4 separate regions of the Homo sapiens genome follow, and all the other regions are linked to region 1. The links come from fine-mapping of genetic effects on gene expression. A gene starts in region 1. Each other region holds a variant in brackets. All regions are shown on one strand. Distances are between the middles of the regions.

Region 1 (7,693 bases):
TGGGCAACATAGTGTTACCTGGTCTCTACAAAAAATTAAAAAATGAACTGAGTATGGTGGTTTGTCCTGTGGTCTCAGCTACTTGGGAGGTTGAAGTGGGAGGATCACTTGACCCCAAGAGTTTGAGGCTGCAGTGAGTTATGTTGAGCTGTGTTTGCACCACTGCACTCCAGCCTGAGCAACAGAGCAAGACCCTGTCTGAAAACAATAACAACAACGACAAAAAACTCCAGGGCTTTGGGAGGCTGAGATGGGTGGATCACCTGAATTCAGAAGTTCGAGACCAGCCTGGCCAGCCTGGCCAACGTGGTGAAACCCTGTCTCTACTAAAAATACAAAAAATTAGCTGGACGTGGTGGTGGGCACCTGTAATCCCAGCTACTCGGGAGGCTGAGGCAGGAGAATCGCTTGAACCCGGGAGGTGGAGGTTGCAGTGAGCTGAGATCACACCACTGCACTCCAGCCTGGGCAACAAGAGTGAAACTCCGTCTCAGAAAAAAAAAAAAAATTTAAAAAGTGTTTTGGTATCACAATCAGCAAGAAGCCTTTTTTAGGGTTATATAGTTATGTGACCCCTCATTGAAACATCATTCTTATTTATTATTTTATTCTAATCCAAGTTGTCCATTTGCTCATTTTTCTTGGATTAATGAGTTTAGAAAACTAAATGTGATGGCTAATTTCACTTTCTGTTGTGCCTTGTTTTTTGGATTCCCTACATTCCATATGCCGTAAGGAAAGAATTAATTATCTCTGTAAGAAATAATAACATGGATTGAAAGCTTGCTGTGTGTCAGACACTTGACATGTATTACCTCATTTAATCCTGGCAAGTAAATATGCCCAAGGTAACCCAGCTGGTAAATAGTGGACTCAGGCTGGTAGATTCCAGAGCTCATACTTCTGCCATGTACAGCACTATGAAATTGCCCCAGAACTGCCAAACTTCTCCAAAACTGTTTAAGGATACTGTCCTCTTTAAACATGCCTACTCTTTGCTTTTGAACCTTCTGGTTAAAAAAAAAAAAAAAAAGAAATCTTTATATTTTGATCTATAATGTAAACATTAAAGTAAAATAACTCTTTTGTTAAATATAAGTGTTTCTTTAAAAGTCATAACTGTATTGATAGAGTTAAAATGACATTCCATTGGGTTACAAAAAGCAAGGCTATCCTTTTTTTTTTTTTAAAGTACTGTCTTTAATTCACTATTTTCCAATCCAATCAATAAATCTGATCTGACATTTTCAAGTTCGTTAGGTAGTTAGAGATTATGCTGGTTTCTGCATCCAGGCCTTAACACAATAAATGATATGTACATGCTTAGAGTATGTGTTTTCTTTAATATGTAATATACATTTGTTTTTTCTCTCTTCCCCCATTGTAAATCTTGTTCAGGACATGCTCTACATTTCCTCCTTTATCAGGCTGCATGTAAGAAAATACGTTGTCGTCTACTAATCTGAATTGTTGTGTCTTTGATACCTCAAAGAGGTTATTGGGAGTTCTAACTGATAATTCAAACTCATACTTCTTGGGTCAGAATACAGTTCTTGCTTTTCAATGATGTCAAGGCCCACCTCAGGCAAAGTATAGGCTTCTGAACCAATTTCTTGTCAAATTAGTAAAGAAGGGATTTTTCAAACTTCAATTTTGGAAAAGGAGATAACTTTTTCAAACTGTAATCTCTGCCAAGATGCTATGCAAAGGATTTACAAAGGAATCTATAGAACTCAATTCTGCTTCTTAAATACGCAGAGAGGAGTTAAAGATTTCAAATCTTTTAAAAACATAGTGATTCAGCCACGTTCTGTTTATCTGTAAATCTAATAGTGTATGTAGTTGAACTCTTAAAATTCTGGAATGTTTATTTTATTTTATTCATTGTCTTGAGAGGAGCAAAAGGAAGCGAGAGGGCATAGCTTTGAAGAACTGGCAATTTGGCAACTTCTCTCCCCTTGCCACCCCTCCCCCACTATCTTAGCTATTTGATCTGATTAAACAGCTTTGGAATGGTAGCCAGACTTCTGTATGCTAACGAGGCCCCTACCCTATTCGCGATTTAATGCGATTTCATCCCCCCAGAGCTTCCCGGTGCCCAGTGGAAGCCTGACTTCGCAGAAGTCTCCCAATTTTGTCAGGGGCTCGCCAGTGAAGAGTTCACACTGACTTGAAGCAGACACAGACTCATTGGACGCCTCGGGTCACATCGGATTATTCATTAGCAAATTCTTTCCACCTTCTATCTAAGTAGTGAAAGGTGACGCCAGAATCGCGTGTGCCACTCCTCTAAAGGGACCCTGATAACACCCAGTCCAGGCTCTACAACTTCTGCCTAGTCACTTGCTTCCTAGCAGTAGAAAGTTTCCAAAGGTTGCCTTAAGTCCTCCCTACCCCTAAGCCTAAAGATCAGAGCTCCAGGTCCCACCACCTAGCAGGAATCTGAGCATTTTGGAAGTTTCTGGTGTAGAGGGAAGAACCGAAGGGGTGGTAGCGGGGAACCGCGCAGAGTAACCCCCCTGCACTACGTAAGGAAAGCCCTGGCTGCAGGAGGGAGCGAGCCTGACATTGAGACGTTCCAGGGGGAGGGTGAGTTGCTGTCCTGGAGTCGCCAGGAACAGCAGCGACAGTTCCAAGAAGCGAGAGAGGAAGGTGGCCGAGATAAAGAGAACACTTCGGGAATAAGAATATTAAAAAGCGGCAGGACCCAGAGCATTAGCAAACGGCAGAGCACATGTAGTAATTTGTTAACACGAAACGGCAGCCTTCCAACTTTTGCACTGAAACACGGGGATTTACCCTTTGGGGGATTAAAAATGTTGATACGCAAAGCCAAAGGCTAATGAATAGGATTCAGTGGCTTGCTGGCAATATTTAAATATTTCTGTCCGGGAGCGCAAACTCTTCTGCAGTTATTTAGAAAAGTAGGGAGTTAAACCAAACTATAATACTCTCCCGTGCGTCTCCACTTTCCCCAGCCCGAAAAGGAGCTACCAGCGCTGTACTGCCCCTTTAAGACCTGCTGGCTCTCGGGCTCTACAAAAGGGAGTGACCTCTGGGCTTTGACAGCTCTCCTAATAACTACCACGGCGCAGGCCCCGCCCACCTAGCTACCAGCAGCGCCGATTGGCCGGCGGGCCGGTATCCCGCGCTGTGATTGGCCCGTCGCTTCCCCTGAGCGAACCTTTAGAACTCTGAGACAATATTCTGTTACATTGTAGCAAAATGGCGACTGTCATTCACAACCCCCTGAAAGCGTAAGTAAGACTAAAAAATGTACATATTCCGCGTGGTTTCAATATGAAAAAAAAGGCGCCTTCTGCGTGGCGAGCGCTGCCAGAGCATTGCGCTTGCAGGCGCCTCCAGCCGCGGCGGGGCTTCTCTCTTCTTTCAGCTCTTACTTCTTCATCTTCTTTTTTTCCCCCAACGCGCAGAAATGTCAGGAGATGCAATTAACAAGAAGAAAATTGTTACATTTGTGTTCTGCTAAATTGCAGAGAGAGCCAGATATAGGGGTTGCAGGCGGAGAAGCCCGGCGCTCGAGCGCTCTACAGCAGGAGGGTCGCGGGAGCTCGGGGACGGCGCGGTCCCCGGAGTCCCCCGCCTCGCGGGCAGGGAGCGCGGCTTCGGGGGCTGCTGGGCGGGGGGCGAGCGTCGGGCAGTGGCCGCCTCGGTGTACTTGGCCGAGCCCCGCGCCCCCGAGCCCGCGGCCCCCGCCCCGCCGCTGGGTCCGCTGGGTCCAGCGGACGGACCGCGGAGGCTCCGGAGTTTGCAGGGCGCTCTTCGCCTTCCGATCGCTCGCGGGGAGTTTGTGCAAACCTTCCGGAGTTGGAGCACCGCGGGGGAAGCAGCGGGTCCCGGGCGTGCTGGGGCCCAGGTGGTCGCCCCGGGCTTTCCCCGGCAGCCCCCGGATCTCGGAGGCGCTCCGGGCGATCGAGCGTGTGTCTGCTCGTGTATTTGCGAGCGAGCTGGCTTTAGTGGATTAACGACTCGGGTTAACTTGGGGTGGATTTGGAGGCAGGGAAGCCGCAGGTCTTATGAATGGTGTTCTCGCCACCTCTGGGTGAGGCGCTGAGGCAGGCGGAGAGGCGGTTTTGGGGCTCCTGGCCCGAGGGGGCAGCGTCTGCTCCCGGCCGGGCGAGGGGCAGGTGCCTCTGGCCGCCTCGGGGAGACTTTGAGCGCTTGCCCAGATCCTGGACAGAGTGGGGCGGGCCGGGCGAGGACTCGCGGGGGCCAGCCCCGGGTCCAACAGCCAATTTCTGCCTGCCTGCCTTCCTCCTCCTTTTCATCCTTCCTTCCTTCCTTCCTTCCTTCCTTCCTTCCTTCCTTCCTTCCTTCCTTCCTTCCTTCCTTCCTTCCTTCCTTCCTTCCAGTCAGTGGAACTGTTAAGCCGCCAAGTCCGCTCGCGATCGCGGAGCCAGGGGTGGCCTCGGAAAACTAGTGTCGCTCTGAAAGGGGTGCTATTGGGTGATGTCGGCAGAGGGTGGCTCCCTCCGTATCCGAGGTGGGCTGGGGGGTCCTCACCCCTTCGACCGGGACTTCCCCGCCCGGACGAAGCCGCAGGCGAAGTGGCAGAGGGAGGTGCAGGTCGGGTGGGGGGCGGTTCATGCCGAATTCTCCCTGGTGCGTGGCCGCTGTCGACCCTGGTTCTTTTAATTCAGCGCATTCTCGTCTTCACCCCTGGCCACTCCTGGAGTTGAAAACCAGGTTCGCTCCCGGGGACGGTAGGGGGTTCCTAACGCAAAGGAATGCACAGGGAGAATCGGACGTGTTTGCGCCAGCTCGTCGCCCATCAGAAATAGGGAAAGGGGTAGGAAGGCCCCAGGTTTCAAATATATTTATATGAAAGCTGCCGTTAAGAGGACGTTGGAAGCTGAGGCTGATCAGATAGGAGCTCCTGGCTTCAGTTCTGGCTCGGAAGCTCGGATACACTGCGCTTGAACGCCACAGCGTTTCACCCAAGAAAGAAAATGTTTTATGGCAGAATAAATGGGCGTAACTTCGCCGCATCCTCGCTGCCGGTTGCTTTCGCTGCAACACCGCTGATGCTGTTTCTACCGAACCCACAACTGATTTTCAGTTTCCCCATTTCCAGCCGAAATCACATAACCGGGCTGATGCCACCTGGTAAACTCAAGTTAGAGAACCTATTTCACATGTGCACCAGGTTTGTTTCCTCCTGGGAAAGCCGTACCCTAGTTACCCGGGAGCCCGCTTTCGCGCGGGCGGGCGCAGTATCTCTAAGCTTGTGTTCCCCTACTCGCTCCAGGGTTTTTTGGATCACAGTAGGGTGCGTGTTTGGGGAGGGAGTCTGTGTAGGGTGGGGTTAAGGGTGGGGGAAGGGACAGACGCGGGAAAGAAGGTGGCGGAATTCTGGCCGGTTAGTGGAATTAGTTCTGAATTGTACTTTGTATAATTAGAAACAGTTGCAACGTGATGTATTTGTAATTGTGTTGCCACCCACATGCAGACACTAGCATACACACAACGCCCCTGCTTGCTTTTTCTAGGTGGGAGTTGCTTGGTCATTTATAATTAGCTATTCCTTTCTGCTTCCCAGACCCTTTCCCTGTGAGTAAAGGGGTATAAACAATACCACTGACCAGCCCAGCCTCTCACACCCTGGACAGTTTTTGACAACTCCTAACGCAGGAGCACACACGTTGTTATTGGGAGAGGGACACCATCTGCCTTTATTTTTTTAAAAATAACTTGTTTAATAAAACATCTTATATATTTCATTTGTTTTTAAAAGTTGCTGATCAGGAAACAATACACACGTGAATAAATTATGCATGGGATAAATTAGAACAAAGTGCAGAGACACATCCAGCCGAAGGGATGGTGGTGGTGCAGGGAGGAGGGGTAGCGGGGAGAATGGTTTGGAGAGCTATGTTTTTATCCTCATGTGTCCCTCCTGACAATGAAACAGAGCTGAACGACATTAGCATTTTCTCTGTGTGCGTTCTGAGTCTCTCTCTTCCCTCCAAAAAAAAAAAAGCCAACACCACGGACGTCTCCTACAGAAAATGGTCACACAAAGGTTTCCTCAGGATGGGGGGATAAAGTGGTGGTAGTTAATGTGTTGGGAAGAAACAAGCTCAGATTTCCAGCAGCACCTATGCAGGGCTCTGCCTACGCTGAGTATGGGCTATTTTTCACTGTACTAGCTTTTTCCACGTGGGACATTCAATAATTCAATTAGCTGGGGTGATGGGATGGCACAATTTTGAATCTCATTGCTTTGGGGTTTTCCTTAGGGTCCCAAGCTCCTGAAGCCACATCTCCTCTCTTAGCAATTTGGCTTTCTTCCTGCCTGTCTTTGATCTCCCCTCAACTCCCTTTCTTTTTCTTCCTTGTTGTACCCTTCACCCCCTTCCTCTCTGAAGCTGACAGCCCAGCTTCTCTCTCTGTTGTCGCCTTTAACATCTTATTACTGCCCAACAGGGTGTTAGAGGCAGAAATAGGAGCCGCCTGCACTGATCAGATCACAAAGGGGACACGGCAGGTGGCCCCCACAACCAAGCAGTCACATCTGGACAAATAGAATTCAAAAGCACTGGTGGACATGTATGATGTGTAAATGTGTATTACATATTATTTAATTTAGCAGCTACATTGTCTGAGCAAAGATGTATGAGAGTTACCCTCATTTCTTACATATACAAGCGAGATAAGGCCCAGGTAGTGAAGTAAACACATGCAGGTAACATAAATATGGATTTGATAAAGGCCTGCATGTAGATTAGTCACGTTCTGGTTGATTTGTGCATACCTGGGAAACATAATGCTATTATTATTATTATTATTATCATTATTTTTTGAGACAGGGTGTTGCTCTGTTGCCCAGGCTGGAGTGCAGCAGCAGGATCTTGGCTCACTGCAACCTCTGCCTCCTGGGTTCAAGTGATTCTTGTGCCTTAGCCTCCAGAGTAGCTGGGATTACAGGCGCGCACCACTACACCTGGCTAATTTTTGTGTTTTTTAGTGGAGACGGGGTTTCTCCATCTTGGCCAGCTGGTCTCAAACTCGTGGCCTCAAGTGATCTGCCTGCCTTGGCCTCCCAAAGTGCTGGGATTATAGGAGTGAGCCACGATGTCTGGCCACATAATGCTTTTAATATAAATTTGAATCTTAATATTCTAGTTCAGATAAACCACCTTCCCCCAAATCTGCAATCAGTACTTTAAACAACTTACTCTTGTATTATCAAAATCCTGGTTGGTATGCATTTAACTGAGAATGTCTGCCACCTTCTGCCAGACTTGATTATACACATATATGTCTATTATTATAATTGCCTACTTAGAAAAAAATTATTATTATTAAATTCCATATGAACCAACAGGGCTTTACCTTAAGTAATTATTTATAAAGAGACCCATAAACTATTTTGTCATGCTTATAACTGTGAACACACACATATACGTGATTGTATTGAAACTTTCTTTTGTAAGGAGTTAACCTTGCTTGGAGGTATGTGTTTATGTCCCTGTTTTGTTGTTAAGAACACTACTCTGGGAGAAGAAAATAAACTTACTTAGCCAAGTCAAACAGCAGGTCATGTGTGTAGATGAACGTCAAATCTAGATCTCTTTGTGCATTCTATGACCTGTATTAGTGTATTCTAATCTAAAGTGGTTTTGTGCATGTGAAAGTTAGAAGCCAGACCTCACTCTTGCTGTGGCACTCA
Region 2 (7,693 bases), 82 kb after region 1:
GTTCTGACCTCCAGAACTGTAAGACAGTAAATCTGTGTTGTTTTAAGCTACTGAGTTTGTAGTAATTTGTTAGAGTAGCAATAGGAACTGATACCATGCGTTTAAGACTTATCCATGTTACTGCATGTATGGGTGCGTTCCACTGTGTGGCTGCATGGCAACTTGCTTATTCATTTACCAACTGATGAGCACTTGGGTGTTCCCAAGTTTTGGCCATTATGCAGAAAGCTGCTATGAATATTCCTATTTATAGGTCTTTGTGTAGACATATGTTTTTATTTCTTTTGAGCAAATCTCTGGGAGAAATGAAAATATAATTGTATATTTAACTTTAAAAGAAATTGCCAAACTGCTTTCCAAAGTGGCTGTACCAGTTAGCATTCCCACACGCAGTGTGTAAGAGTCGTAGTTATTCTATATCCTTGCCAGAGCTTGGCATTGTCAGCCTTTTAAATTTTAGCCATTATAATAGATGTTTAACGGTATCTCATTGTGATTTTAATTGCATTTCCCTGCTAACTAATAATGTTGAACCTTTTTTTTTTGATGTGCTTTTTGGCCATCTGTATCTTTTCTTTTGTGAAATGTCTGTTCAGTTCTTTGACCTTAAAAGAAATGGAGTCATTTGTCTTCTTATTGAGTTTTAGGAGTTCTTTATATATTCTGACTAAACATCCTTTATCAGATATATGTTTTGCAAATATTTTCTCTCAGTCTGTAGCTTGTGTTTTCATTTTCATATTAGTGCCTTTCAAAGAGTAGACATTTAAAATGTTGGTGAAGTCCAATGTATCAATTTTTTTCCTTTACGACTCATGCATTTTATGTCCTATTTAAGAAAATTTTTGCTTAACCCAAGGTTAGAAAAAGTTTCTTCCAAGTTTTCTTTCTGAAGTTTGAAAGTTTTAGTCTTCCATTTAGCTCTACGATCCATGTCGAGTTAATTTTTTTTTTTTTTTGGAGACGGAGTCTCGCTCTGTCGCCTAGGCTGGAGTGCAGTGGCGCGATCTCGGCTCACTGCAACATCTGCCTTCCCGGTTAAGCAGTTCTCCTCAGCCTCCCAAGTAGCTGGGCTTACAGGCACCTGCCATCATGACCAGCTAATTTTTATATTTTTAGTAGAGACGGGGTTTCACCTTGTTGGCCAGGCTGGTCTCAAACTCCTGGTCTCAAGAGATCCGTCTGCTTCAGCCTCCCAAAGTGCTGGGATTACAGGTGTCAGCAACCACACCCCGCTCAAGTTAATTTTTATCTAGGGTATGAGGTAAGAATTAAAATATTGAAAAAGTTCTTTTTGGTAATGTCTTTAACTGGTTTTGGTATCAGGGTAATTCTGGCCTCATCAAATGTGTTAGCATTGTGCCAGGCACTGTAGAGAATATAAAAGTCAGATCTAATCCCTGCTGGACTCTCTCTCTCGCTCTCACACACATCCCCCAAGTATGATGAAGGCAGAGTTTGGTGAGCATAGAAGAGAAGTGCATATGAACTGCTATGGGCTTTCAAAGAAGGGTGAAGGCCTGGGAAGCCTCAGAATCATCTTCATGAAGGAGGGACACTCAGGAAGGGCCTTAGGAGGGCTGCACCATTGCCTCACTCTGGGGGCACCATTCAAATGACAGTCAGTTGAGTGATCCAGGGCCACGTCGCCTGCAACATGGAGGGTACCCGTCTGGAGTTTTTAAAAAAAGTGGCCCTGCTAAACAAGAAAAGGTCTACTAGCTGAGAGACTATCAGCCGGTAGAGATGGGGAAAGGTGGGTGGGGTGGACAAGAAACCATGTACTGGGCGAGAGAGAATTCTATTAAAGTATGCCTTTGCCTCGCCAACCTCTGAATTAAACTCCCATTGTTCTGCATCCTTCCCACACTGATTATGGTGCCGGAGGGCCCTGGAGAGGAAGGTGGGAAGGAGGGGGACCAGCCGTCATGGAGCCCCTCATCTCTGTGCTCGAGCCCCAGCATCCATCATCTCATTTAGTCCTCTCACCAACTCTGTAAGAGCAGCTTCATTATTTGCATTTTTGCAGATTAAAAAATGAGATTCATAAAGGTTAAGTGCCCTGCCTGGGGTCAGCCGCTAGTGAGCAGGGGAGCCTAGTTGCAGTCCAGCCCCCTGGCTGCCTTTGGCCCCTGCAACACTATCTCTCACTGCTCTGACAAAATGTCATTTCTGAGGAAGGCAGGCACACAGACCCAAAAGGAATGGGTGCCGGGGGGGAGGCCAGGATGAGATATTTGTGAGTGGGTTTGTTCTGATGTAGCAAAAACTCTCTCGTTGCTGTGGGCTGGGAAGTGGCTGACTGGCTGCGTGGTCAGAGTTTGCAAAGCTTTTGCAGATCCTTTTGCTAGAGGGGCTTTAAAAGCTGCAAGCGCTCAGCAGTTCCTATCAGCTGGGATTTTTTTCCTCCAGATTGAATCCTGTCAGGGTTTTACTGGCTCATCTGTTCCCAGAATGACACCATGTCCCCTCACCTGAGCAGCACGGCCTTGCCACCCACGGTACTCCCTGCTACCAGACGGCTCCCGGAAGGAATTCTTCACCAGCCCTATTTTTTGTCCCCTGAACCCCTCTCCTGACTCTCTCAAAACCCTCTGGTTTCTCCCAGAATTTGGAGCCAAGCCCATCAGGGACAAAGGAATGCTGGGACCTTGTTTGGATCTCAGATTTGGTGGTTTGCTCCCCTTCCTGGTGTCATGGTTTGAAGCATTTTCGAAGGAGCCCCCGAAAAGCAAGGACAGTGTGGAGAGGCTGATGCCCAGAGGCGATGCGGTGTGTCTGGGAAACCAGAGGGGACCCTGCCTGCAAGTTCCCATTGCCCCCAACCCCATTCCTATCCCTATGAGCCCCTGGCCCTTCTTCGCCAGTGCCTGTATCCTCAGAGCCCTCTCAGGGAGCCTCACCCGCCAGCCTCTGGGCGTTTGGCTTCCCGTCTTTTGTTTGGTCACCATGGGCCCTGCCACTGCCAACTCAGGCAAACAGAGCTTGGGCCAGCCCTGGGCTGCCCAGCCTCCCGGACGCATTGCACACTGCTCTGTGTCAGCAGAAAAAGTGTAC[A/G]TGACAAGTGGCATACTAGAGCGCCCTCTCCCCCCAGGCCTAGCTACAAAGCCTCCATGCCCTGCTGAGCCCTGCCCACCGGGCCCAGCGTACTCTCCGTACTCTCCGCTCCGCCAGCAGTGTTTCAGGAATCCTGAGGTGCAGCTCAGGTGGCTCTCGGTGACGTCATGGGAAGTGTTCTGGGTCGGTTCCCTTTGCCTCCCTGCCTCCACCTCCTTCCCAGACTTGCCGAGGATGTTGCCTCCAAGCCCCTCCCAGCTCCCAAAATACCAACCCTGCCTCCTGGCCCTGCCAGAAAACGCTTAGCACATTAGCGGGTTTAGCTGCCACAGTGGCAGTCAGTTGGGAGGCTGCAGAGGCACATAGATTTCATTCTGGAATTCTTTCCAGCTCCTCGCTATTTTGACAACACTGGGCAATGCTGTTACCAGGAACCTGCCCTGCCTGTGGGATGGGAGAGGCTGGGGGCCGGGGGTGGGGATGGGAAAAAGGTAAGCGGGGCTGGTGGGAGCAGCCTCAGGGTAAGGGACTATGAGAGAAGGTGGGGGACTACACTGGTATCTCATGGTGCTGCAGCCACTTTGGTCTTTAACTTGGTCTTTAACATGGCTGGCCTCCCTCCTTGCCTCCTGGAGCTCACTTGGGGCAGATCTTAGATACAAGAGACCTCAGTGCAGGGGCTTCTGTTTGAAGGAGGCAAGAGGTTCCAAGACGGCAGGAGAGGCAGCAAGACAGGCTGAAAGAAAACAGCCACACCAATGTTGTCTTGGACTCAAGACTTTACTGCAGCTCCCTCTCTGCCGCTCCAGGGCTGGGTGCCCTGGAGCAAGCCACCAACTCTCCAAAACTCAGTGTTCTCATCTGCAGAATGGGAGTAACCTACAGCTTGCCCTTCCCATCTCAATGTGAGATGGGGGGATCTACAAGAGACAATATATGTGAAAGTGTTTTGCAAAGTGTAAAGTGACTAACATTTGTGTGCCTAGGAGCTCTGGAAGGCAGGGCCTATGTCTTGTTTATATTTGAATTCCTCTATCATGTCTGGTTTATTGGGTAGAAAAATAAATGTGGAGACTTTTTGGAAATTTCTGACTTGCCTCATTGGTGATCGGTGTGGTGAAGGATAGTAAGGTTCTGGGTGTATTAGTTTGTTAGGGTGGCTGTAAGTGCCACAGACTGGGTAACTTCACAGAAATTTATTTTATCATAGTCTGGAGGCTAAAAGTCCAAGATCAAGGTGTTGGCAAGGTTGGTTCCTTCTGAGGGCTGTGAGGAAGAATCTGTTCCAGGCCTCTCTGCTGGCTTCTGGGGCTTGGCTGGCAGTCTTATCTTTGGCATTCCTTGCTTTGTAGGCACATCACCCCAATCTCTTCCTTCATGGGGCAAACTTCCCTTTTTTATAAGGACACTAATTGATATGATTTGAATGTTTGTCCCCTGCAAAGCTCATGCTGAAATGTGATTCCCAATGTTGGAGGTGAGGCCTGGTGGGAGATTATTAGACCATGAGGGTGGATCTCTCACGAATGGCTTAGCACCGTCCACTTGGTGATGAGTGAAGTCTCACCCAGTTAGTTCACACAAGATCTGGTTGTTTGAAAGTCTGGGACTTCCCACCCTTGCTGCCTTGGTCTTGCTCTCACCATGTGACACGCCTGCTCTCCTTTTCACCTTCCGCCATGATTGTAGCTTCCTGAAGCCTCACCAGAAGCAGATGCCGGCACCGTGGTTGCTCTACAGCCTGCAGAACTGTGAAATATACCTCTTTTCTTTACAAATTACCAAGTCTTAGGCATTCCTTTATAGTAATACAAATGGACTAACTCACTAGTCCTGTAAGATTAGGGCTCACTCTATTCCAGTGTGACTTCATCTTGACTAACTATATCTGCAATGATTCTGTTTCCAGCAATGACAGTCTGGGGTCTTCTGAGCCCAGGGCCCAGCTCCAGGATCGGGAAGGTCAAGGCAGTGTGCCAGGCCTGGCTGAGAATAGAGAGTTCTTCTGATGAAACGTGATGTGGGTGCTTGCTGGGTGGGGGACCCTATTTTCTACTGCCATTCTTGGATTTGGAGGCAGATCTTTGTTTCTTAGAGTTATTCTTTTCCCTTTCTGAGTAGTTCCTGTGAAGTAGAGTCATGCCATTTGTGTGTGAGACCCAGCTGCTGCACCAGTTCTAACTCTTCACCCCCTTCTTTTTCATGCCCCTCTTTCCCTTCAAGTCACTAACCCCACACACGCCCACCTTCCTCTGCAGCCCGGAAGCTCGGTACACATTTGCTGACGTATTAGAACACACCCTGGCATGAATGTGATTCACATTCTCCGCCCGTCTCTTCCTTCCTCTGTGTCCTGGACCGCAGGCCCTTGCAGTGCATATCTCTGACAGGGGAACCCCCACTATAGGTGTGCTCCCATTTAGCCTGGGTTCAGGCACATCAATGAGCATGTTCTGAGTTGGAGGGATGGGGCGGGTATGTTGCTGGACCACAGCACTGGGATGTTGTGGGAGGGCACGGAGGTGTCTCAGCACTCCGCTGCCCTCTGTATCTGAGGCTTCATTGCCCTTATTCGCATCTTCCCTATGAAATGCTCCAGTTTAGTAAGGGATTGCTATGGAAGAAGGCATTTGTACAAGTCACCCCTGAATAGTAAGAGGGGATCTTCTCTTATAGATTCTCAACATGTACAGGCACAGTGCTAAGTGCTTTCCATCCTTTTTCTCATGTATTTCTCTAAATAACCCCAAGAAGCAGACGCTTTTATATCCCCATTTCTCAGATGGGCAGTTGAGGGTTTGAAAGGAGATGTAAACTGCCCAGAGTCATTCAGCTAGTGAGGGGACTCAAGCACTTGCTTCTAGAACCTCTAGTTCCACCCTCTCATCCACAGGGCGCTCAAGGGGTGGTCAGTGGCCGTTTGCATTGGTATTCCCTGGAGAGCTAAGTGAAAAGTTGGGTTCTTGGGTCTCCTCCTGATCTATGGAATCATAAGAGATTGGGGTGGGACCCAGGAACCAGCTCCCAGTGACAAGCAGGGCTGAGAATCACTGCCTGTGGAGCCCAGTGCCACCTTCCCTTTCTCTTCCACCAGGCGCCGAGGACCTGCCATCAGCCACATGCAGGGTTCTGAAAGGAAGGGCAGGTGTGACCAGGCCTCCCCATGCACTTCTTTCCTCCCTGGTGTAGTGGCCTCAGGAGTGCTGGTGGATGGGGAGCCATCATGCCTGCACATAAGTTGGGAGAGGGTGGCTTGTGTGGCCGTGCTGACCTGCCGACTTCTCACTCTTTCTGGTAACCCCCATGCCCTTCACCGGTGCCATGTTCCCCAAGGTCCTAGATGATGGAGGGACCAGGCCTGGTGTTGGCAGGCAGTGGCCAGGGCCAGGCAGCCCAAGCCCTGTGTGACGATGATGTGGGAGTGTCTGTCTGTGTTGCTGTAATGGAATACCAGGAACTGGATCATTTATAAAGAAAAGAGATTTATTTAGCTTATGGTTCTGCAGGCTGAGAAGTTCAAGGGCATGGCCCTGTCCTCTGGCGAGGGCTTTCCTTCTGCATCACAACATGGCAGGGAAGGTCAAAGGGAAAGTAGACACGTGTGAAGATGGGGAAACCCAAGGGGGCCCTGGTGTTTTAACAACCAACTCTCCAGGGAACTAATTCATTCCTGTGAGAACAAATCCAGTCTTATGAGAGTATGAATATTAGAGCTACAAGGCACTGCCAAGTTAATCTTGTCTAGAGGGCCAGATGAGCAAACAGAGGCTCAGAGAGGTAAAATCACTTGCCTGGGTTCGCACAGCAGGTAGGTAGTATGGTTGGAGCTAGAACCCAAATTAGTAGGATTGCTCCTAGACTCCTAAGAATGCCAAAATCCAAACCATAGCTTCTGAAAACAGATGTCCTTACATGCCCGGAGACCTTTGGCTGGTTTCCTGGTAGAAGAAGCTGTTCAGACCCCTCTCTCTTTCCGGTTCCCTGCTGCTTTGTGCTACTGGAGGGAAGCAACAAGCTGGTTTTTCTCCTCCCAGAATAGGAGGCATCCCTGAAAATGTTGGCCTGGATTTCCAGGCTGACTTTCTAAACACTACCTCATCCTAAGAGTAAATGGCGAACTATTTTCACACACTATTAAAATTTTAATTTGGAAGACTCCTGTCCTTGGAATGCAAAGTTCGCCAGGCATTTTACGTCCTGCAAGCTGAGGTAGTTACTAGAACCTTCTTGCGGGTCCTGCTTGTAAGTCCCACTTGTAGTATTACACCAAGGACTGGTGGGATTTGGACAGCAAAGTGACTCTTACTATTTGAGTTCGAAATGTCCTGCTTGTTTTAAAATGTTCACTCAGTTAAGGTTTCTTCTTCTTCCCTGTCCCTGCTCCCACTCCTTCAGAGCAGGATGTTTGGATGCTGTAGTGGGAGCTGGTGGTGAAAAATTAAAGTTATTAATGTGACCATCCATCAGATGGTCCTACATTTCACCTCGGTTCTGCTGGTCTCCAGCCCTGACCCTTACTCCATTTCTCTCTTCCTGCTTCCAGACCTCCAGTCCATCTTTGATCCTTCCCTTTCCTAGTTCTCAGTCCATCCCTGACCTCTACCCCATTCCTAACTCCCACCTTATCCTTACCCCA
Region 3 (7,693 bases), 73 kb after region 1:
TCCTCATTGCTAGATAAGAACCACCCCTTCTTCAGGCTTTGCTCATGTGGTCCCCTCTCCTAGAAAGCCTTCCATCCATTCCTGTTTGTCCAAATGCATCCACTCTTCCCCAGTGGCTCAGCTTCCCTACAGCTGGAAGGAAGCATAGCATTTTCTGAGCTCCCTAAGCATAGATCAGCCTCTCCCTATTTCTCACAATGATTGCCACTGGGTGCCTGTCCCATAGATGAAGGTAAGAATGGAGTTTCCTACTCTCTGTTTTATTGCAAACAAGTATCCAGGGTAAATGTGATTTTTAACACATTAAAACACTCATACACCTCCCTAGCCCCCAATTTTTCCTTGTTCTCAAGGTAACTGCTTAGTTACATTCCAGGGAGTGGGAGGAAGCCAAGAAAGAATTCTTAGTCTTGGGGAGCAGGATCGAGTGCAGAAATGTCTTGGAAATGGAAGATTCCCCTGACTCCTCGCCACGCAATGCTGCAGCCCGTATATAACAGTGGGCGAGCTCCCCCTCGCCGCCTTGCTTATCTCTACTTCACATTCACAGACTCACCAGCCTGGAGTCTCTCTGGATGTTGGCCAAGCCAGTTGGGAATGCATAATAGCTGAGATATGGGATGGGACGCGTCCGCCATGTCCTTGCATGCTGCAGTGAAGGTCTCCTTCTCTCCCTTGTTCCTCCCTCGTAGCCTTTTCTCTGGTATTGGGAAGTAATCTTTCTGGTCTCACATCTCTAATATTTGAAAGAAGGGAGACCTAGATTCCATGTTGGCAGCTGGCTGTGCTAGTAATTAGGGACATCCCTTGGAGAACTGGAGGGAGGTTTGGGTGAGCAGATTTAGACCAGATGGCGTCCAGCTAGCTGCCATTTTGAAACCTCAGCTACAGGGCCTGGTGAGCTTAAAACCTTCCCTGTAACCACCACCTTCCCTCGCCAACCCATTTGGTTTTTGTGACTAAAACTTTGGTTTTGCTTTAGTGTCTTTCTGTTTTGCTTTTTGTACTGGTTGCAATAGGGATGAGAAAAGGAAAGGCCTCTCAAAAGAAGATTCTAGTCCGATGGGAGCGAGGGCTTCTGGGAAATTGGGTGAGATCTTCATGAGTCATGTTGATGCTCAAAAAGTTTTGGATTTTGGAGGATTTTGCATTTCAGATTTGTGAATTTGGGATGTTCAACCTGTAGGGGGGTTAGGACTTCAACATATAAAGGGGATATAATGCAACGTATAACACTCTCTTTCCTTCTAAAAAACTCAACTCATAATACTCTCCTTCCTTCTAAGAAACTCAATCCATAACACTCCCCTTCCTTCTAAAAAAAAATCTGTGTTTTTGTTTTTGGTGGTGTTTTTTTGAAAAAGAAAAACCTGTATATGGTAAAAAATTTAAACACTACAGAAAGTAATTGAGAGCAAAAAGTAAATCTAAGTCTCTGTCACCCCTGTTTTCACATCCTCAGACCCTAGTCTTTCAGTATAGACTTACCTGTTTTGTTTTTTCTTCTGTATCTTTCTGGTGATGTTATATAAACATAAATATTTATGTGTCCTTTTATTTTTTTCTCCCTTCAAATAGTAGCATTCCAAGTGCCCTGTTCTGCACCTTTAAAAATTTTTTAACAATCTAGGACATAGATTATTTTATTTTATTTTTTTGAGATGGAGTTTCACTCTTGTTGCCCAGGCTGGAATGCAGTGGAGCAATCTTGGCTCACCACAACCTCCACTGGCTTCCAGGTTCAAGTGATCCTCCCACCTCAGCCTCCCGAGTAGCTGGGATTACAGGCATGTGCTACCACGCCCAGCTAATTTTTTTGTATTTTTTAGTAGAGATGGGGTTTCACCATGTTGGCCAGGCTGATCTTGAACTCCTGATCTCAGGTGATCCACCCACCTTGGCCTCCCAAAGTGCTGGGATTACAAGCCACTGCGCCCAGCCTAGGACATAGATTAGATCTGGCCTGTTTTTAACAGATGCATAGCATTTCATTGTGTGGACATACCATGATTTATTTAATTTCACCTCTTTTTTTCAATACAAGATCTCACTCTGTCACCCAGGCTGGAGTGCAGTGGCGTGTCATAGCTTACTGCAGCCTTGAACTCCTGGGCTCAAGTGATCCTCTGACTTTAGCCTTCTGAGTAGCTAGGACTACAGGTACACACGACAGTGCCTGGCTAATTAAAAAAAAAATTTAGTGGAGATGAGCTCTCGCCATGTTACTCAGTCTAGTCTTGAACTCCTGGCCTCAAGCAGTCCTCCTGCCTTGGTCTCCCAAAGCTCTGGGATTACAGGCATGAGCAAGTACACTCGGCCTAATTTCACCTCTCTTGATGAACATTTAGATGATTTCCAATATTTGCTGCAATGAAACAATTTGTTTATGTGTTTCTCTACCCATAAGTGTAAGTCATCTACACATCTCACTCCTTTCTAAGGTTCTTATATAGTGTATACGTTGAGTATATTTGAGAAATATTTATTAAGTTTGTACCATGGACAATATTCGATAGTTCATCATATTGATGCCAGCGTTTACTCAACCTAGTGGCTTATCCTAGATTGTTTCTTGCTAGAAACAAGGTCAGTAATAAAAATTCTTTTTTGTCCCTTTTGTTGGTGGAGAATGGGGTCTTGCTATGTTGCCCAGGCAGGTCTTGGACTCCTGGGCTTAAGCTATCCTCCTGCCTCTACCTTGTTAAGTGCTGGGATTATAGGACTGAGCCGCCATGGCCAGACTTGTTTTTTCTTGTTTTGAGACACAGTCCTACTCTGTTGCCCAAGCTGGAGTGCAGTAGTGTGACCTCAGCTCACTGCAGACTCTGCCTCCCAGGCTCTGCCTCCCACCTCAGCCTCCCAAGTAGTGTGCATGCCACCACGCCCGCTAATTTTTTTTTTTTTTTTTTGAGATAGAGTTTCACTCTGTTGCCCAGGCTGGAGTACAGTGGCGTGATCACAGCTCACTGCAACCTCTGCGTCTCAGGTTCAAGCGATTTTCATGCCTCAGCCTCCCAAGCAGCTGGGATTACAAACATATGTGCCACCACACTCGGCTAATTTTTGTATTTTTGGTAGAGATGGGGTTTCATCATGTTGTCCAGGCTGGTCTTGAACTCCTGGTCTCAAGTCATCTGCCTGCCTCAGCCTCCCAAAGTGCTGGGATTACAGGAGTGAGCCACTGTGCCTGGGCTAATTATTAAAATTTTTTGTAGAGATGGAGTTTCATCATGTTGCCCAGGCTGGTCTCGAACTCCTGACCTCAAGTGATCCTCCCAGCTTGACCTCCCAAAGTGCTGGGATTATAGGTGTGAACCACAGTGCCTGGCTGAAAACTCTTGCCTGTAAATCTCTAATTTTGATCATTCATCTTTGTTTATTCCTTAGCACAGGTTTCTAGAAGTGGGTCAAATAATCTGAAAATTGTTAAGGTTTTGGGTCTTAACTTTAATGTTCCTGCTAAAGCTTATATAATAGTGTTCCAAATTGTGTTCTAGAAATGTATCAATTTATATTTTTACCAGAAGAGTGCTCATCTTGTCCTACAATACTAGTATTATCATTAAAGTAAAAACAAAACAAAAATTATCATCAAAGCAAAAAACAAAAACAAAAAAACTCATTTGATAGGTGAAATTTGCTCATTTGGTTTGTGAAATACAGTATTTCATTGCTTTAATTTTAACCTGTTTATTAGATATTCTTATTTCCTCTTTTGTGGCTTTTCTGTGTCTTTTGGCCATTTGCCTGTTGAGGTCTTAATGCTTTTTATATCAATTTGCATGACATTTTGTATATTAAGAATATTAATTTGTCATACATGTGGCAAATATTTTCCCCAGTTTGCATCTTGACTTTTAAAAAGTTCTTTTAAAACTATGGTATAATTTACATTCAATAAAATGTACTCATTCAAAATATATAGTTCTATGAATTTTAACAAATGTGTATACCCATGTAACCACAATAGAATATTATTATTATCCCCAAAAGTTCCTTAGTGCCTCTTTGTACTCACCCCCTCTCTGTAACTGTAGATTAATTTTGCTGATTCTAAGAGTTCATGTAAACACAATCATACACTATCTACCTTTTGTTTTTTAATAAGACAAGTTCTCACTTTGTCGCCCAGGTTGGAGTGTAGTGGTGCAATCTCAGCTCACTGCAACCTTTGCCTCCTGGGCTCAAGTGATCCTCCCACCTCAGTCTCCCTAGTAGCTGGGACCACAGGTACATATCACCACACCTGGCTAAATTTTTGTATTTTTAGTAGAGATGGGGTTTTCCCATGTTGCCCAGGCTGGTCTTGAACTCCTGGGCTCAAGCAATCCACTCGCCCCAGGCCTTCCAAAGTGCTGGGATTATAGATGTGAGCCACCATGCCTGACCACTATCTACTCTTTTGAATCTAGCTTATTTCACTCGGCCTTTTAAAAAAAAAGTCTTATCCACATTGTTGTGTACATTAGCAGCTAATTTTTATTTTTATTTTTTTCAGTCCTGATACCAATGCAGTAACATCTTTTTTTTTGCTGAGTTTTTCATCATATGAATTTTCCAAAATATTGTAATCATTCACCAGTTGATGGACATTTGGGTTGTTTCCAGTTTTTGGCTATTATGAATAAAGTTGCCACGAGCATCTGTGTATGTCTCTTTTTTGACATACCATTTTCCCCCATTTCTTTTGGATAAATACTTAGTAGTGAAACTTCTCA[A/G]TCATATGGTAAATGCATGTTTTTAGAATAAGCAGCTACCATACTATTTTCTAAAGTGGTTGCACCATTGCATATTCCCGTCAGCAGTGGCTGTGCTTTTGGTTGCTATATATTCTCACCAGCAGGTGACATTACCAGTCTTTTGAATTTTAGCCATTTTAATGGGTGTGAACGGTAGCTTACTGTAGTTTTAGTGGGCATTTCCCTAATGACTGATGATGCTGAGCATATTTTCACGTGCTTATTGGCTATCTTCTTTTGTGCAGGGTCTGTTCAAATCTTTTGTTGTGTTGTTTGCCTTATTACTAAATTGCTAGAGTTCTTTATATATTCTGGATATAGATCCTTTGTCATATATGTATGTATGTACATGTATGTGCTATATATGTACTGTGTATACATGTATCTATATACTGTATGACTATACTATGTACATATATGTACTATGAATCATTTCTCCCAATCTGTGGCTTGTCTATTCATCCTCTTAACAACATCTTTTAAAAAAATTGTAGTAAAATATACGTAACATAAAAGATGCCATTGGAATCATGTTGAGTATTTAGTGGTGTGAATTATACTCCCATTGTTGTACAACCATATCTCCTATCTTAAACAATGTCTTTTTAATTTTTAAATTTTTATCTTTTTAGAGACAAGGTCTTTGTTGCCCACACTGGAGTGCAATGGCATGATCAAAGCTTACTGTAACCTCGAACTCGTGGGCTCAAGCAGTCCTCTCGCCTCAGCCTGCGATGTAGCTGGGACGGCAGGCATGAGCCACCACACCTGGTTAATAAACTTCTTTGTAGAGATAGGGTCTTTCTGTGTTTCCCAGGCTGGTCTGGAATTCCTGGTCTCAAATGATCCTCCCGTCTTGGTCTCCCAGTGTGCTGGGATTACAGGTATGAGCCACCACACCCAGCATAACAATGTCTTTTGAAGAGCAGAAATTTTTAATTTTGAAGTCCAGGTTATTTTTCCCTTTTGTGATTCTTATTTTCTGTGTCCTAAGAATCTTTGCCTACACCAAGGTTATGAAGATTTTCCCCATGTTTTCTTCTGGAAGTTTGTTTTTTTTTTTGAGGCAGAGTCTCGCTCTGTTGCCCAAGCTGGAGTGCAGTGGCTCGATCACTGCTCACTGCAACTTCTGACTCCTGGGTTCAAGGGATTCTTGTGCCTCAGCCATTTGAATAGCTGGGATTACATGTGTGTACCACCATGCCCAGCTAATTTTTGTATTTTTAATAGGGGTTTCACCATGTTGGCCAGGCTGGTTTCAAACCCGTGACCTCAAGTGATCTGCCCACCTTGGCCTCCCAAAGTGCTGGGATTACAGGCCACCGTGCTTGGCCTTCTTCTGGAATTTTTCTAATTTTAGCATTTCTTTCATTCTGTGATCCATTTTGTTATTTTTTGTGTACAACATGAAGTAAAGGGTATGTTTACTTTTAAAATATGGATATCCAGTTAAAAGAAGTGAAAATAGGTAAATGTTAACTATTATTCATTTTATTCTCCTCTGATTTACTCCATTGCTATGTAGCCTAGAAATTCCAGCCCCATTCAGCTATCAGATAGATATTCATCTATATAATCTGGATTTTTTTTAACCTCAATTCTTTGTGTGTGTGTGGTTTTTGTTGTGAGGTGGTGTCTTGCTCTGTTGCCCAGGCTGGAGTGCAATGGTGCAATCTTGGCTCACTGAAACATCCATCTGCTGGGTGGGTTCAAGCAATTCTCCTGCCTTGGCCTCCTAAGTAGCTGGGACTACCGGCTTGCGCCACCATGCCTGGCTAATTTTTGTATTATTATTATTATTTTTTAGTTGAGACGGGGTTTTGCCATGTTACCCAGCCAGGCTGGTCTCGAACCTCTGACCTCAGGTGATCCACCCACCTTGGCCTCTTAAAGTGCTGGGATTACAGGTGTGAGCCACCGTGCCCAGCCATTAACCACAATTCTTTGATTCACTTGGAATATATTTAGGTTGATGTAAGAGCTGGGGGTCTAGTTTGATTCTTCCTACCCCCATAGCTAATTAAATAGTGGGAAAGGGAGTTCCAGATATAGTGGGGACATAAAAGTGGGAAGAGAGTTGAGTTTTGGGAAACAGGGCCATTTAGGCTTACCTGGGTTGGTGAGTCATGGGAGACAAGCTGGAGAGCTTCACTGGGGCAGCCCGTGGAGGACCCCTGGACGCTGTCCCCCCGGGGCTGTGAGCCTCTGAGAGAGGTGATTGGAGTGGTGCTTTTGCATCATGTAGGTTGGCTCTGACTGAGGAGAGACCGGAGGGATGAGGAATGAAAATGGTTGCTGGTGATTTCTAGCTTCAGAGGGGGGCAGATGGCAAGAGAAACTGAGGATGAGATGGTGGGTGGAGTAGAGAATTGCCTGTTCTTGATTTCAGAAAGGGTGAAGCTGGAAGGAGGAATTAAAGATTGATCTTGATATTCCAGTTGGAATGTTGAGTATAACATCTCTGCTTTAACCAGAAATAAAAGATGACAGGAGGAGAAACTGGCTTTTCAAGGGGATGAAGTTGAAAAGTAATGACAATTATTCACTTTTGGAGAAAATTTGTGACATTTCTTGAGAGTATAATCAGAACAGTTCCTTATAATTTGCATAGCATTTTAACATTTCCAAAGTGCTTTTACATACTACTTCCTTTTTTTTTTTTCCATTTATGCCTGATGTATCAGGATAGGCAGGGCAGGTATTACCCTGTTTTCCATCCTGCAGATGAAGGAGGGGAAGCTCAGCTAGGTGGGGGGTTTGCCTGAGTTTTGTTCTGAGTCAATAGGCTCTTCTGGTATCAAGGGGTGGGTTGGGGGTAAGGTTCTGATCTTGGCTTCTACCCACTTGCTGTATAAGAAAGTACCTCAGCTTTCTGAGGGTTGGAGAATGTGGGGTGGAGAATATCTGCACCATTAGACTCATACGATGGAGAAGGCCAGATAACATAACGTAAG
Region 4 (7,693 bases), 370 kb after region 1:
TGAATCCATAAATCTGGCTGTACTTTCTCTCAGGCTACTGAGCACTAATATTAAAGCATATGACCACTGCAGGGGGTTTATGAGAACCATCATGACCAGCTGAGGAAGCCACCCAGAGCCCCTGAGCCCCATGGGCTGAGGTGTTAACATCCCCATTTAACAGAGAGGCAAACCGAGAAGAGAAAGTTTAAAGAACTTAAATGGATAATTCTAGAAGGAACTCCCAGACTCTTGGCCTTTCTCTAGGGACTAGAACTTCTCCAGGTCTCAGTGCGACCACCAAGCCCTCAGCACTAACAATCCAGGGACAGTGTGGTCTGAGCAGAATCTTGGCCAGCAAGCGAGGACATCTGAGTGCAAGTCCTGGCTGGTCATGGGCTGCTGAGGATTTTAACCTCCTTTTTATACCTGGGAACTTCTGAACTGCACCTACTTTGCTGGGGCAGGCAGCCAGTGCTGTCCAGGAAGGTAAGGCAGTGTGAGTCTCTTGGCACCTGCTGACCTCTGCTCCGCAACACTCAATCCTCATGTAGAAACATTCACAATTCAGATTGCTGTGTTGCCATGGCTGCGTCAAAACCAAGTCTCCTCTAACTTACTCTCCCCCAAAAACTGAAGATCCTTTATGCCCAATCCTCTATCCTGTAGCTTTCTGGATTTCTTGAAGCATTTCAATAATTTTCATGACCATGTGCTAGATTTTATTTAGCACAGGGTCACAAACTACAGTCTGTGATTCAAATCTACAGATACAGACCTGTGATCTAGATCTTTACATCCCATGAGCGAAGAACAGTTTTTATGTTTTTAAGTGGCTGAAAAAAACTAAAAGAAGAATTGTATTTTGTGAAAAATTATATGAAATTGGATTTCACTGTTCATAAATAAACACAGCCATAGGTCCTCATTTATGTTGTTTACATTGCTATGTTGTTGCATTGTAGCTGCTTTTGTATGCAGAATCGAATAGTTGTGACATAGACCACATGACTCACAAAGCCTGCAATGTCTACTATCTGGCTCTTTTTAGGAAAAGTATAGTTTTTTAACTGACCCCTGTTTTAGGTAAAAGGCAGGTTACAGGATCACGCTATTTGCAAAATCGCCCTGTTGTGGAATGAATGTTGTGTCTCCCTAAATTTCATATTGTTGAAGCCCTGATCCTCAGTGTGGTGGTACTTGGAGGTGGGTCTTTTGAGAGGTAATTAGGTTCAAATGAGGTCATGAGAGAGGCCCTTATGACGGGATTAGTGTTCTTATAAGAAGAGGAAGAGAGACCAGAGTTATAAGGACACAGCAAGAAGGCGGCCACCTGCAAGCCAGGAAGTGAGCCCTCACCAGCAACCAAATCTGCTGACACCTTAATTTTGGATTTGTCAGTCTCGAGAACTGTGATAAATTTCTGTAGTTTAAGCCACCCAGTGTGTGCTATTTTGTGGTAGCAGCCTGAGCAGACCTTACACGTAGCTACACACATAAATCAAGGAAGAAAATACACCAAAATAGGGGTTATCTCTGGGTGCTAAGGTTATGTGAAATTATTTAAAAATTTTTACCAAATACATTAAACACTACGGCTTAAAAAGAGAATATTAGTGACATTAGAAAAATAAGATGGTAGTATTTACTCTGTCTTATTGTGGGCCAGACATCGTTAGTGGTTGACATGCTTCCTTTCACCTGGTCCCCATTCCACCCCTATGTGTAGGCTCCATTGTATCCCTGTTCTACAGATGAGGAAAGGAAGACTCAGGGAATTTAAGCAACTTGTCCAAGGTCACTCTGCTAGAAAGGAACACTTTGTATATTTATGGTGGAAATACACTTCAGAAGCAATAGGAAATTGGTCTGAAAATAGGGATTGGCTTAGGAAGAGTGTTTTATTTGAATTCATGGGAGACTAATCCTAGCAGATAATGAAGAAGATGGGGATGCTTAAGACATCCTCATGTCTAGTCTAGATTGCTGTAGAAATTAGATAGAATGTATTTAGAAGTACTTGGAAAATGGTAGAGCACTGTAGGTTGGATATTGAGATACTTGTCAATATGTAACCTTCGTTAGGCTGACTTCCCCACTTCTTCCATCAAAACTTTCTTGAAGTAGAGACAACATAAATGTCCAAGAAGAGAGGACTGGTTGACTAAACTATGGTGCCTCCACACAACGGAATACTATGCAACAATTAAAGAACCAGGCGATAATCATACTGTTGCTGTATTTTTAGCATTGTGGTTTAGAGACTGCTCTGTGTAGTATAAAGCAAATGAGTAATTATGCTATCATCCAGTGCCCTTGAAAGTCAGGATTGTCAGCATAGAGAAAAGAGGCACAGGTGTAAGAAACAAGCGGTTAAATAAAATCCCCTGTAGGTCAGAATTTGAATTAAAAGTATCAGTATGAACTCAGGATGTATTTTTATTATAAACAGCAACACATTTCCTAGCTCTGTCGACTGAAAAGGGCTGGAAATGATAAACAATCCAGGAACAATGAAACACTCTAAGTGCCTAGATTTTAGTCTCTAAATACCATTTCTCACTAAGAGGAATCAGGGATCCTTGGAGAAACAGCTTATTCTGGGTAAGGGCAAAGACTGGAATATCTTAGCTTCCCTGCTATTTGGATGATGTCAAAGATCACTCTTAGGGCTGTGTCAGAAAGAGCCAACTGGCCAGAGATGGCCCAATCCAAGCATCAATAAAAGTAATCAGCAAAATGGATTAAAACATAGCATATATGTTTAAACTCATGAGTTTACAAAGATAGTAAAACCAAAATAGACCCTAATGTTTACCATAGGAAGATAATAGCAAACCACTCATTTTGAAAACTGGCAAATGAAGGGAGAGAATCAAATATTTATCCTGCTTTTCTTATGTGAATTGTACTGCTAGTTAATACCATAGTGGTGGAGGGAAGTTTCTCTTTATGAAAGTATTCCAGCTAATAAGTGAAGAAAGAATAAAATTAGTACGTTGTTGTTTTGTAACCTCTAATTAACTAATGGATATAAGCGATAGACATCAATATCTGCAAAAAGGTCAAAAAGAGAGGTGGCTAGACATGTGCCTTCTGATAGGAGAGCACCACACAATCCATGAAGTGGTTTTGTCCATAAAAATCAAACCTAAATCTGATTAAATATCTTATAAAACGAATTTATAGGAAAGAGAGATGATAGAAGAACATGCTAAATAGCACCACAGGGCTGCAATCAGAAAAATCCAGAGCTTGGAACTCTTTACAGGACAAAGGATCTAAATCCTTCATCAAATAAATTGCAAGGGGATGTGAGGAAGGGAGGGAGATAAAGGATATTGTGGCAATATTAAAACAAAAGGATCTTTTTTTTAGAGATACATATCTAAGTTTACAGATGAAATGATGCAACATCTTGGATTTGTTGTAAAGTAACCTGGTGGCAGGTGAAAAAGTAGATGGGGCTAGAGATAAAGCAAGATCAGACGTGTACTGATGATTTTTGAGGCTGGATGAGGGTCTATAAATGTTTGCTGTTTTGCTGTTTCCACTTTTCCAAGTGTTAAAAGTTTTCATAATAAAAAATTAAAATAAATCCCTCCTGATGTCATGCTTGGAGTGTTAATACTGTGCTAGATGCATCAAGGTTTTGACCAGTATCCCTCTTCTTGTGTTTCATAAATATTGGAGTTTGAGCTTCAGCTTGTTCATGCAGGGAACCCCCACGGAACTCCCCTGTCACTCTCCTCTCTGGCCATGTCAATATGGTGCTTGAAAGCATACGTACATACACATAAGCAAAAATATCTCAGCAAAGAGCTCTCATGACTCAAACATTCTGCTTTGAAGCTGCAAGGGGTATATGAAGGAGTCATGATTTCGTGATTGGCACAGGCATTTGATGGAGCTCGTGACCAGGGGGAGAGAAGTAGATAGTTATGGTGTTGAGGTTGGTAGGTGTTTCCATCTTGAAGTTCTGAGCAAATGACAAGGTAATTCTGGATGATAAGGGACACTGTTCTCATGCCATTATTTGCATTGGTGCAGCTACACTGAGTTTCCTAAATCAGATAATAATGTCTGCAAGGGGCAAACCACCCAAATTCTCTACTGGGGGCCCCAGAGGTGAGAGAAGTAAGTGGGGTCAAGGAGATAAGCAAAATCTTAAGCCCTGTCACTGGGTGTGGGATGGTGACAGGAAATAGAAATTAGGGGCCAGGAAGTAAGA[A/C]ACCAACCCAATGCTTATTTTTAGAAATGGCACCTCCCAGCCGTCAAAATTTAGTCTGCTGGTTAGGGTGGTTCCTGTTTCTTTAGCCAGCATCACTAGCATCTGTGAGCATCTTAATTGTGTCCTACAGGGTTGGGAGTCCCTCCTGCAGGCTTGCTTTAACCTAGGGTTCACCCATTTGGGGCACTTTTCACACTGTTGAAGTTGCCCATTTACTTGTCTGTCTCCCACTCAACCTCGGTGAGAACAGGGGTTTTGCCTGTTCTTTGTGGTATCTTATCACATAGCGCAGAGCCTGGAATATAGATGTGCTTAAAAAATATTCACTGCAGAGCTGGAGATCACTGCGGAAGCAGTGTAGAGAGGTGGTTATCAGTGTGGGCTTCAGAGGTAGACAGATGTGGGTTTGACTCATGGCCCTGCTAACTCACTACACCCACTTCCCCAATGCTGTGTTCTGGTTTCCAGATTCTATCACTGACTTATTACAAGCCTTCAGATTTTGTAAAACACTTTGAGGCTTTCCTGGAACAAATAAAGCATATAACTGCACATTTTGGTTTCTATGTAATACATAACCCATCTAGGAAAACGATCCTGGGATTTTGCTGTGCGCCTATCTGAAATGGTTTCCACTGATGAACTTAAAAATAACCAAATCTGAAATTTTAACTACCCACAATGCCTTGAACTTGTGTTAATAGGTCAGGCAATGAAGGGGACAAATGAACACCTTATGACAACCACTTGAGTAGATAAGCAAACCTGGGCGTCTTCAAATGTATATCTCCCTCCATCTTTGACATTTTGACTGGTTATCTCATAGCTGTGAGAATCCAGGTTGATTGCACTTGGAGCCCCTGGAGCCAGAAACTCTTGCCAGATTTCTTCTACCCTCTTGGCCACATCCTGTAGGGGTTGTTTCTTAAGATCTTGGACAGCCAGCCAGAACCTGAAGTGGGAGCAGAAACACAGTCAGTTCCAGGGGGCTCAGCATCGGGATGTTGCCTGAGATGGCCCCAGAGCTGATGTCCCATGAAACCCATTCTGCTGCATCTCTCAGCCTGCCCTGATGCCACTACATGAGCTGCAAAGACCATGGAGATTGTGAAAACATCAAAGGTGTTCCTATGGTGCAGAACAGAAAAGAATTGCATATTAAAAGATCAATGTGCTTCTCGTTATCAGAACGGGATTTCTCTCCTTCTACATGAAGGTTTCTCAACCTCAGCACTATTGCCACTTCAGGCTGGATAATTCTTTGTTGTTGAGGCTATTCTGTGAAATGTAGGATGTTTAGCAGCAACCTTGGCCTCTACCCACTAGATGCCAATAGCAACCCCCCTTCCCAAGTTATGACAACTAAAAATGTTTCCAAACATTGCCCAATGTCCCCTGGGAGATGAACTCATTCCTGGTTGAGAACCCCAGTGCTACATACATGCCACCATGCAGACAGTGTGAGACCCTTTGTCAAATCTAGTTGGGATCAAGTGATGGCATCAAAATGGAGGAGAGATCCCAGAAGCAGGCAGTGTCCTGGAATCATAAAGACTATCTGTGTAAGAATGAACCAGCCATTCCTATTATAGATGGAGAAACTGAGCCAATTCACATCAGTGCTCAGCACGGTGCTTGGCAAATAGTAGGTGCTCAATATATGGGTTTCAGAGTGAAGACGGACGCATCTGGAGCAATGCTGAAGAGGCATATGTTGAAAACTTCTCTGCAGAATGGTTCTCCTTCTGCTGAGAGCAAGAGAGAAAAATCTGCTCACTTCCGTATTTGCCTCTGTTTAATCCCTCAGCATCCGCATGGGAGCAGTGAGCTCTTTTCTGCTGAGAGCAGCAGCAGCCAGAGCCAAAGCTTGGACAACAGCTACCGGGTCTTAAGGATGGTTCCCAAGGCAGCCTTGCAGCAGGATCCAGGTCTGGGTGTCATATCCTTTGCCCTGTGCATGGACAGGCCAGCTCCCCCATCAGTGAGTAAGAGAGTAGGTCCTGTGCTGGTTCCGAGAGCAGCGGGAATCACAGGTAGTCTAGTCAACAGAAAGGGAGGGACAAGCGAAGCTGAAACATGACGTGGTGGAAAGTGCAGACAGTGCATTCAATCTGTCATCAAATTTCATCCAAAGTAAGATGTACTTGTTTCTTTTTTTTTTTTTTTTAGGGTTAAACATGTTTTTCTGTTGCTGTTCAGAGAAATGTCTTTGGAGCCAAGTGCATGGCCCAAAGGTGCCACTCAGTGGCAGACTGGAGTAATGCAACCCAATTTCTGCAAGGCAAGACGACTGTGTGTGTGTGTGTGTGTCCCCAAATGCTGGGCTCCAACTCTTCCCCTGATTTGCCATTTTTTGCCATTTAGGATTCTGATGATCTCCTTAAAGGAACCTCTCAGCGACCCTGCAGAGCCAAGCGTAAGGCAGAGAAGGCTTCATGACTTCCATCAGATCAGGAAGCTGGCTCTGCCCTCATCCTGTCTACGCCATATCTTGCCTTGGTGTACCTTTCTGGGTGCCTCTCTCTTCATCTGTAAAATGGGCACTGAGTGGATGGAGGGATATGTGGCATGGCTCTGGAAAACTTCCTATGCAGACTTAACTCAGAAATGCTTTCAGGTCCTGTGAGGGGGAGCTGAGGAGGGGTCAGTGTGGTGGCCACAGGCTCAATGCTGGCCCAGTGTGATCCCTCGGATTCCAGCCTTCTCTCCGCAGGTGGCCTGGGCAGATGCTGCCGCCCAGCTCTTGCTGCTGCCATCTGGTGTCCCCTGCCCTTCCACAGCTCTCTGACAGCCACAAGTCCTGGGTGCTCAGGTCCTTCTGGCTTCTGGGTGAGAGGAAAGCAGTCGTGTTTCTTTATCCAGAGTCCAGAGAGGGTGGGGAAGGAAGGGCTTGAAAGGAGCTGTTCCCCTACCTCATTGTTCAGGTGGGCCCTTGACTCTTGAGCTGGGGCATGGGTCTCCTCCATCTCCCAGGCCTGCCCTAGGTTCTGTAGGGCTCTCTGTCCACTCTCTCAGGTCTGCTGTGAAAAGAAGGAAGTGGCCGGGAGGCTTGCCAAGTGAAAATGGCCATCTGCTGGTGAGAGTACCTACAAGGCTTTCTCTGCCTGGAAGGCCATGTCTGACCAGTAGGTGAAAGATGCGGGGAACCTGGCTCTATAGGAAGAAGCCAGTGTTGGCTTTTCCAAGGCCCAGAAGGGGTCAAATGTCCAGAGACGAAGTCAGTGAGGCTTCCTCAGCCCCATGCTAGGCAGACAGGAGAACCAGGTTCACAGAGGGAGGCCGTCTGGGCTGAATCCCTGGCTGGAAGCAACCTTCTGGGTCAGCGTCTTCCCACGCCCCCTGGGCCCCTGCAACTTCTCACACAAATGGATGACACCTGGGTGATTTCCTGCCCCCTCAATCAATGCCACATGGGAGGTCACTTTCTGTCACCTCTGTCAGCACTGAGGAGGAGCTGCTGAGCCCCTGTGGGAAGGCCCTGAG

Alleles and levels. Positions count from the first base shown, and alleles are read on the strand shown. Sizes are in standard deviations (SD) of each study's normalised expression. Not every link is listed here.
For the expression in tibial artery of the gene that starts at base 3,213 in region 1, A is the low allele of the variant in region 2 and G is the other (moderate effect, 0.43 SD a copy in GTEx).
As copies of A replace G in region 3, the expression in testis of the gene that starts at base 3,213 in region 1 goes up (small effect, 0.23 SD a copy in GTEx).

What was found. PIP is the estimated chance that this variant, and not a neighbour inherited with it, causes the effect.
Region 2: its variant is fine-mapped to the expression of DPF3 in tibial artery (GTEx, PIP above 0.99).
Region 3: its variant is fine-mapped to the expression of DPF3 in testis (GTEx, PIP above 0.99).
Region 4: its variant is fine-mapped to the expression of DPF3 in whole blood (TOPMed, PIP 0.99).

What each region holds. Positions count from the first base shown.
Region 1 is chr14:72,889,621-72,897,313 of GRCh38, reverse strand. DPF3 (double PHD fingers 3) reads left to right here and starts at 3,213. Exons shown (of 11, transcript NM_001280542.3): 1 at 3,213-3,257. The coding sequence starts at 3,226. RefSeq lists an enhancer at 2,959-3,253.
Region 2 is chr14:72,808,077-72,815,769 of GRCh38, reverse strand. The region is part of intron 1 of DPF3 (double PHD fingers 3); the gene reads left to right. Among named protein-coding and RNA genes, the nearest start is that of DPF3, 82 kb to the left of the region's middle. RefSeq lists an enhancer at 4,757-5,956. The variant A/G (reference allele first, on the strand shown) is at 3,058.
Region 3 is chr14:72,816,350-72,824,042 of GRCh38, reverse strand. The region is part of intron 1 of DPF3 (double PHD fingers 3); the gene reads left to right. Among named protein-coding and RNA genes, the nearest start is that of DPF3, 74 kb to the left of the region's middle. The variant A/G (reference allele first, on the strand shown) is at 4,719.
Region 4 is chr14:72,515,820-72,523,512 of GRCh38, reverse strand. It overlaps RGS6 (regulator of G protein signaling 6), which reads right to left. Exons shown (of 18, transcript NM_001204424.2): 15 at 4,976-5,162. It overlaps MIR7843 (microRNA 7843), which reads right to left and starts at 6,693; the gene lies at 6,615-6,693. RefSeq lists enhancers at 3,695-3,784, 3,875-4,024, 4,495-4,564. The variant A/C (reference allele first, on the strand shown) is at 4,211.